Linked DNA regions of Homo sapiens. The protein of the gene in region 2 interacts with the protein of the main gene of each other region in a pairwise test. Each region holds a gene or a part of one and is shown on either strand. Other genes may lie near its edges. The genes, in order: CHERP and TLE3.

The links.
Region 1: the proteins of TLE3 (region 2) and CHERP interact in binary tests that used the Homo sapiens proteins (3 or more experiments, as listed by UniProt).

What each region holds. Positions count from the first base shown.
Region 1 is NC_000019.10:16,528,738-16,532,545, forward strand, and holds part of CHERP (calcium homeostasis endoplasmic reticulum protein), read right to left. Parts: intron 2,144-3,808; coding exon 2,032-2,143; intron 1,938-2,031; coding exon 1,848-1,937; intron 1,164-1,847; coding exon 911-1,163; intron 1-910. UniProt on the Homo sapiens protein: Involved in calcium homeostasis, growth and proliferation.
Region 2 is NC_000015.10:70,091,110-70,094,917, reverse strand, and holds part of TLE3 (transducin-like enhancer protein 3), read left to right. Parts: intron 1-128; exon of another isoform or gene 129-192; intron 193-341; coding exon 342-386; intron 387-3,808. UniProt on the Homo sapiens protein: Transcriptional corepressor that binds to a number of transcription factors. Inhibits the transcriptional activation mediated by CTNNB1 and TCF family members in Wnt signaling.

The DNA.
Region 1 (3,808 bases), on a different chromosome or scaffold from region 2:
GGTCAGGAGATCGAGACCATCCTGGCTAACACGGTGAAACCCCGTCTCTACTAAAAATACAAAAAAGTAGCTGGGCATGGTTGCGTGCGCCTGTAGTCCTAGCTACTCAGGAGGCTGAGGTAGGAGAATGGCGTGAACCCAGGAAGCGGAGCTTGCAGTGAGCTGAGATCACGCCACTGCACTCCAGCCTGGGCGACAGAGCAAGACTCCATCTCAAAAAAAAATCAAAAACAAAATCCTTTGCTAGATTCTGCTAAGATTTCCTTCAGTATTTCCGTGTCTTTTTCAGAAGTGACACTAGATTGTATTTTCTGAGACAGGGTCTCGCTTTGTTACCCAGGCTGGAGTGCAGTGGTGTAAATGCAGCTCACTGCAGCCTCAATCTCATGGGCTCAAGTGATCCTCCCACCTCAGCCCCCAAGTAGCTGGGACGACAGGTGAGCACCATTTTTCTATTTTTAGTAGAGACGGGGTTTCACCATGTTGCCCAGGCTAATCTCAAACTCCTGGGCTCAAGCGATCTGCCCATCTTGGCCTCCCAAAGTGCTGGGATTACAAGCGTAAGCCACCATGCCTAGCCAATTATATTTTCAGTCTGTGCATTGTCCTTCCTGCCTGATGTAATAGTTACCCTAGTCTTGGGGAATGATCTGGGTACCTTTCCTCTATTTCTTTTCTCTGGGAACAGGAAACAGATCTTCTGCTGTTCAGGAATGGGATGGTTGTAGTTTTACTCTAGGATCACCTGGCTCGTGCTTGTAAATGGATGAAAACCTGGGCCTAGGAGCAGGCCTGGGACGAGGGAACAAGAACTGAGTCTGAGGGTGGCAGACTGCTTTCTGACTACACTCGGTGCCCAGCCTCTGGGGGCTGTTTCCTGGGGGCAGGCTGAGCTGAGGGAGCCCCGTACCAGGCTGGGTGGTGGGCGGGATGGCAGGGGCAGGTGCTGGGGCCGGGGGTGGAGCAGGCGGTGGAGGCGTGGCCTTGACTTCAGCCTCCATCTGCGGCATCTGGAGCTGCTGCTGCTGCTGTTGCTGCTGCTGCTGCTGCTGGGCCAGGCTGGTGACAAACTCCTCGTGCTGCGTCTTGAGGGTCTGGATCTGCTGCTGGAAGGCCAGCTGCACCGGCTGGACCACTGAGGAGTACTCGTTGATGAGGGTGGCCTGAGAGAGAGAAGAGCACCCGCTGCTCAGTATGCGGCCTTGGGGCTCGCTGCCTGGCGCCAGAGGACAAACGCCTGGAAAGCAGCAGAGCCTGGGGGACCTGGGGCAGGTGGACAGGGAACCGTCACGTGAAACAGCCAACACAGTCTGGGCAATCAGTGTGCGCTGGGATCTGGCCAGAGATTTGGGGATGAGGATGTTCGCTGCAGCGTGTTTTACGACTCCCTGATAACAGAACGAGCAACGACAGCCGTGTCCTGGCCGCTTCGTGGCTGCTCAGCGAACACTGCCCACCAACATTCTGGGACACGCTCATGGGCTCTGCCTCCCACTCGCCATGTGGCTCTCAGCAAGAGGGGCTGCCACAGCCTAAGCCACGTCTGGGCTTCCTCATGCTTCCACCACACCGGAACATGCCTGACCACCAGAGCAAATGGGCCATGTGCAATGACTCCGAAAGGCCGCCTGGTTCTAGTGTTCCAGGAAAGTCAGGGAGACACACCTAAGGCCTGGGAAATGTCACCTGGGACTCTCTGGTCAACACACACTGGCTACTCCTAGCACAGGCAGGGGACATGGGCTCTCTGGCTGCTGGGGTGGCAGCTGCTGTCCCCACACTCCCAAACCCTCCTGGGGAACCCGCCCCAGCTCTAGGGTGAGGTGTGGGTGGGCAGGGACACTCACCTGGTACTGACCAAGCCCCAGGGCTGGGCTCTGTAGCTGCTGAATGATGGAGTCATCGAAGTAGCCGTTTTTCTCCCAGAGCTGCAGGAGCTGGCGGTGGGAGGAGAGAGAGGCCGGGTCAGTGGGGAGGGGAAAGGCCTGTGTGTCCCGGTCTTGCCCAACCCCCGGCCCGGGGCCCACGCACCCGGGCGATCTTCTGCTGCTTGTCTTCCTCCACGGCCAAGAAGCTGGTGCAGTAGATGGGCACCACGACCTTCTGCAGGGCGGCCAGCAGCTCCCGGGCCTGCTTGCGCTGGCTGTGAGGGAGAGACTTTCCGCGCGTCAGGGCCCTGGGGCGGGACCCGGCCACGCGCCCGTTACCATCGCGGCTCCAGCCTCAGCGCCCTCTGCCTTCTCGGGAATCGGGTCCCCAACCCGGTCAGGGCGATGGCTGGGCTCCCACGAGACCTGTGCTGGTGCCTGGGCTCGAGGAAGGGACAGATGGAAAAACAGCAAGCAGGGGAGGGAGAGAACGTGGCCTGGGGCCGTTCTGAGCAAGGCCTTTTGGTCCAGTCCCCTTGATAGGAAATAACCTTCCCTCCTTCCCTCTTGGGTGGCGCTGCGGGTGAAGGGATATGGGCCGGCGGGAGCCCCTGCCTGTGTATGATGGGCGGGATGGGACTGCTGCGGAGTGGGGGTCTTGTCCTTGTCACTCACTATGCACAAGGAAACCTCGGCCCAGGCCAGGCCTCTTGGGAGAAGGAGGGAGGGTGCCCAGTCCCTCAGGAACCTAGAACACTTTAGAAGAGTGACCGGATGCCCAGCGGGGGGAGGCGCCGGGCCCATGTCCTCTCAGGGCTGCTGTGCAGTGCTGCACAGGACACTGTGCATACCTGGCCTGGGAGGCCCCTGCCGCTGCGCAGGGAGATGGCTGCCCCTGGGGAGGGACGCAAGACAGGAGGGGAGCAGCTGGAAGCCCCTCAGCCCTCAGCTTGCCGCAGGGGGCTCAGGGGAGCAAGGGCCTGGGCTGGGCGAGCAGCACTTGGCTTCGGACAGAGTAGAGCTAGAGAGGCGCGTGGCTGGAGAATGCGGGAAACTGTGCATCCGTGCAAGGCACCCGACTCAGAGGCAGGGAGAAATGGAGGCATGAGGAGGAGCAGAAGGGCAGAGCTGGTGCCGAGCCGCAACTCACTTCCCAGCAGGAGAGAAACAGGGACTGAGGTGGGGAGGCAAGAGGGACTCAGGCAGTGCTGCATGTGATAGATGGGGCGAGATGGGTGCTGGCAGCCTGGCCCACTGTAGAGGCACACGAGGCGCCAGGCCAGGACTGCTGCCCGCTAGGCTCAGTAGCAATGCTTGTCTCCTCCCGCACGTGCGGGCCTTTGGCCTGGGGTTCTATTGTTTTTTTTTTCTTTTTTGCTAATTTTTGTGAGAAGGGCCCCAGTGACCCTGTAGAAGGAAATACCCACCCAACCTTGGGGAGGGTGGAGACAGCAACAGTGGGAAGGGTGAGGGCTGGGTGGGGACAGAGGGTCGGCAGATGTGGCTCTGTTGAAGCCTGAGAGATGGGTCAGGGCTGGAGAAGGGGATCCCAAAGGAGGGTCCTGATGGCTGAGCAAAGTCAGGTGACCGCGTGTGTGTGCGTGCAAATCAGTGACGAGGGCAGGAGACAGACACAGAGGCCAAGGAGGCCGTGGCTGAGAAGGCAACAAGGAGACGCCAAGAAGCTGCCCCATGAGAGGAAGGAGTGCAGGGGACAGTGGCCCCCAGGAGACAGCAATGTGACAGGTGAGGCCGGGGTCTAGGGGAGAGGACAGGGCATGCAGCGAAGGTGCACAGGACACCTAGACCTCGCAGTCCTGGAGACAGAAGCCTGGTGGCTCACAGAGACCCCCCACCCGGGGTCCCCGGACAAGTGCCCCCTAGTCTCGGGACAGGCCAAGCCAAGCTACCGACCGGAGCAAGCGGCCACCCAGGAGGGT
Region 2 (3,808 bases):
AATAACTCTCAGAGGACAAGAGGGTCCCAGTGTACACACGATTCCCTGTTGAACCTGAACCTTGTATAAACAGGATATAGGGCACATGTGGTGCTTGTGGGAGGGAAGGCCCAGCTCCCCTTACTACCACATAATATAACGTTCTGTTGAGATGAGAGGAACGCTCGCCCTTGTCAGCTCTTAAACCGCTCTGTAAGCTGGCTTTGGGGTTTGATTTAAACTTCTTTAGCAAATGTATCGTAAAAGTATGATTTGGCCAAAACCTTTCCAAGAAAAAACTGATTTTGAAAAATGACCAGATTTCTGTGTTGTCTGTTAATAGCCATTCTTTTTACTTTTAGTACTATGAGATGTCCTATGGCTTGAACATTGAAATGCACAAGCAGGTAAGTGCTTTTCTCTTTTAAAAATATATTTCATTTTTTAAAAACTTATATATGTGGACTTCTTATGTTCTCTCTTGTTTGAAAGTGAGCCTGCTTCTTCGATTCCTCCCCCTTCTCCTTGAAGAGTGAATGGATCCAGTCCTTGAAATGCAAGGTCTGAGGCTTTGCTGATTTTTTTTTAGACATGTTGAGCTTTTAGCATTTGAGCTTGTGAAATTAGTCCTGGTCTTGGATCTCGGTGGAGGATAAAGGACCAAAGGGAAAGTTGTACCTCCAGGATCTGCTTTACAAACTCCTGAAAGCCCAGAGGTGGCTGGCTGCTTTTATCTGTTTTAATGTAAAATTCTCAAGAGGAAATGCAGGAGGATTTTTTTTTTCTTTCTCCTTTTTTTTTTCTTTTTGCAGAAATGTGATGTTCTGCCTTGATAAGATTAAACTTCAAGAACCTTAAAAGCCAGGCTGAGCTGTCGAAATTTAAGGGAACGAAGCCACTAACTGCTTAAAAATATGAAGCCAGAATGAAATACAACTTCAGTGCCTTGCATTGACAAGGTGGCTTTCTCATCCCTGTCTTGATTTGAAGGCAGCCGAGTTCCCATTTTACAGAGAAGGAAGCTGAAGCTCCTGGGTGAAGTAACTTGCCCAGGGGCAGCCTAGCCAGGACTTTCGAGATGGCTGGGGGTTGAGCTCAGCTTTGAAATCCTGAAGTCAAACCAGTTTAGCTAGTGTGGTGTCGTTTGATGGATATGTAAACTACCTGGTATTGTCACTCTTCTAATAACAGTATACCTCAAACCGAGCAAATACAAACACCCTTTATCTCAGTGCATATCAGTAACTAGTCCCAGTGCTAGGCTGGGCTGTGGGAGAGGCCTGTTTGTGTATTTGTGTTCTGAGGAAAGGCTGCCTATAATTTGGCTTGGCCAACGTTTAGAGTTGACTTGGCACGTATAAATGGAGCAGGCAGGCCGGTTGTTCTTTTTAACAATTGGTGTTCATGAAATCTCAGAAGGCTGTTGACTCATTCTAGCCTTTGGTGACCGTGACTTGAATGGATTTTCTGCTCTAAATTAACAGTCGTTTACAAGGTTTCAATTTTGCTCTTTAAGGAGGCAGGACCCAGGGCAGGTGAGAAGGGCAGGTGACCCTGGAAAGTGGGCAGATTCCTACCCACTCGGGTGGCTTCCTATAGAGCCTTTGGGATCTGTAGTTTCCTTTCCCCTCCTGGAGGGAGCCCCCAGTGTTGGGTGAAGGGAAGCCAGAAAGGGGCCTGAGTTTATTGAGCAATGTGTGGGAAGCCAGCTTGTGGCTTCCTGAGGGATTAGTTAGTCCCTTAGGAAGGCACATGAAGGCTACCATGTTTTTACTTCTTGACACACAGAAATAATAGACAGGGCTTTATACGTAAAGATATTTCTCCTTGGAAAAATAGAATAGAGACAGGTTCTGCAACTGGAAGGGGCCAGGTCCCGGAAGAATGCTTGAAATGGAACTGGGGGCCCAGGTGTTTCAAGGACCTTGGGGTGTATGCAGGGTGCCACTTCCTCCCTTTGTCTGCCCTGTCTTAATTTTTTTTTTCTCAAATAGTATCTTGGGTGTGTTTAAAGAGGGTAATTGCACCCAGGTTTAAAATTTATAGCAGCAGTTATTGGAAGAGCTTGGTAATTAAGGTGTAATGTCTCGTTGCATGTTGAGGTCTGCATGGGTGGTGTTCCGCATGTCTGTGAATGAATGGTGCTTTGGCACTAAGAATCCACCTTGGCTCGCAGCAGATCTGTTCTGTGAGTCCTGGGGATGCTGTGAACGCAGGAAGAGTTAAATATCTTAACGCATTTGGTGGTGGGGTTTATATAAAGAGCAGCTGTGTACATCTGGGATTTCTGGCCATTCCCCAAACAAGGTTCTTAAGGGGAGAATGCCTGGGGTTTGGCTACGTTGTCTCATTTAATCCTCTCAGCTGCCAGTGGTGGATAGAGGCATTCTTTGCCCCCTGTTTATAGGTGAGGAAACTGAGGCTTCAGGGAGGCCAGGAGGGCAGAGCTGGGATTCAAATCCAGCCCTCTGGCTTCCCCACTGGGCACTTTACCTTGCTTGCCACTCACCTTTGCCCTCTAGCCTGAGTTCCCAGCCTGAACATGTGTGCTCTGAATGCAGTGGCTTTGCAAGCTTATGGCAGTCTCTGAGTTGGGTGAAATCACCCTGTGGCTGTGGAGGAACAAAGAGGCAAGGAGGTGAAGAAACCTGTGCCGTGAAATGCAACCCTGATCTAATGGAGCTGGCCACTCCCTAGGTTTGCAAGGGTTCTGTAGAAGAAAGCCCTGCCACTAATTGTAGTGTGGGTCTTGGGTGCATTTGGCGAATGGTGGTTAGGCCTGAGCAAACAAGTTTATCAGCTGACCTGTTTAGCGGTTGACTGGTGTTTTATCGGCACACACAATCAAGTGACTGGAGTGCTTGAATTATTCATGCAGTGTCCTGCCCTCTAGACTTGACTGTTCGTGTGATTACATCTGCCTGGAACAAACAGGCTGGATTCTTCATCTTTAAGCTGGGGTGGGGGTGGGGACTGTCTGTACTTTTATATAATAGATGATCTATAGAGCTAGCACCTTGGGAAGTGTGGCAGTCCTCAGCCTGCGCGCATACACGCACACGCACTCCACCATCACCACCACATATTTTTTTTAAAAGCTCTCCTTTGCTGGCTCTATGGGAAATGCCAATTAGCTGGGAACCTCGAGTCCTGCCAGATGGGCCCGGGTATTGACAGAGGGCAGCTGATGAGGTGCGTCCAGCCCATTTTTATTTTACTGAGAGGTTAAACTCACTGTGGCTGGCTCCTTCTCTGGCTGTTTCTCTGTCTCTCTCTTTTTCCAAGCTGTCAAAATCCCAGAGAAGTAATAAATGGTTTCTCCTCCTGCTCTTCTGCCTCCCTCCCTAATTATGGTAAAGCAAAGATTACAGAATCACAGGCCTGGCCCGGGACTTCAAGAGGTCACCCACCTCCACCAAGCCCCCTGCTTCCAGGCAGAATGTCAAGGGTGGTTCAGAGAGTCTGGGAAGGCAGTGATGACTGACCGGCTCATCACTTGCCATCTTGTTTGTGCAGAGGCTTTCCAGTGTCAGCCACAAATAACAAAGCCAGCTTAAAACCAGGGGCCCCAGAGCAATTGCCATGCATTGGATTTGAGGCACTGGCTCTCTGAGAAGCTGGGTCAGGCAGCCTTTTCACCCACTGTTGGTGAGCACTGACATTTTTGAAAGTGGACTTGAGCCATTTTGATTTTGGGGCAGTGTCGTGCCGACACAATACAGTCACCTTTTTCTGTGAACTGAACAACCTTTCCTGTAAGTTTCTCTTTGAATCTTGGAACTGGAAGAGCCCTTTGGCTTCTCATGCAAACTTTTCAAGTTACAGATGA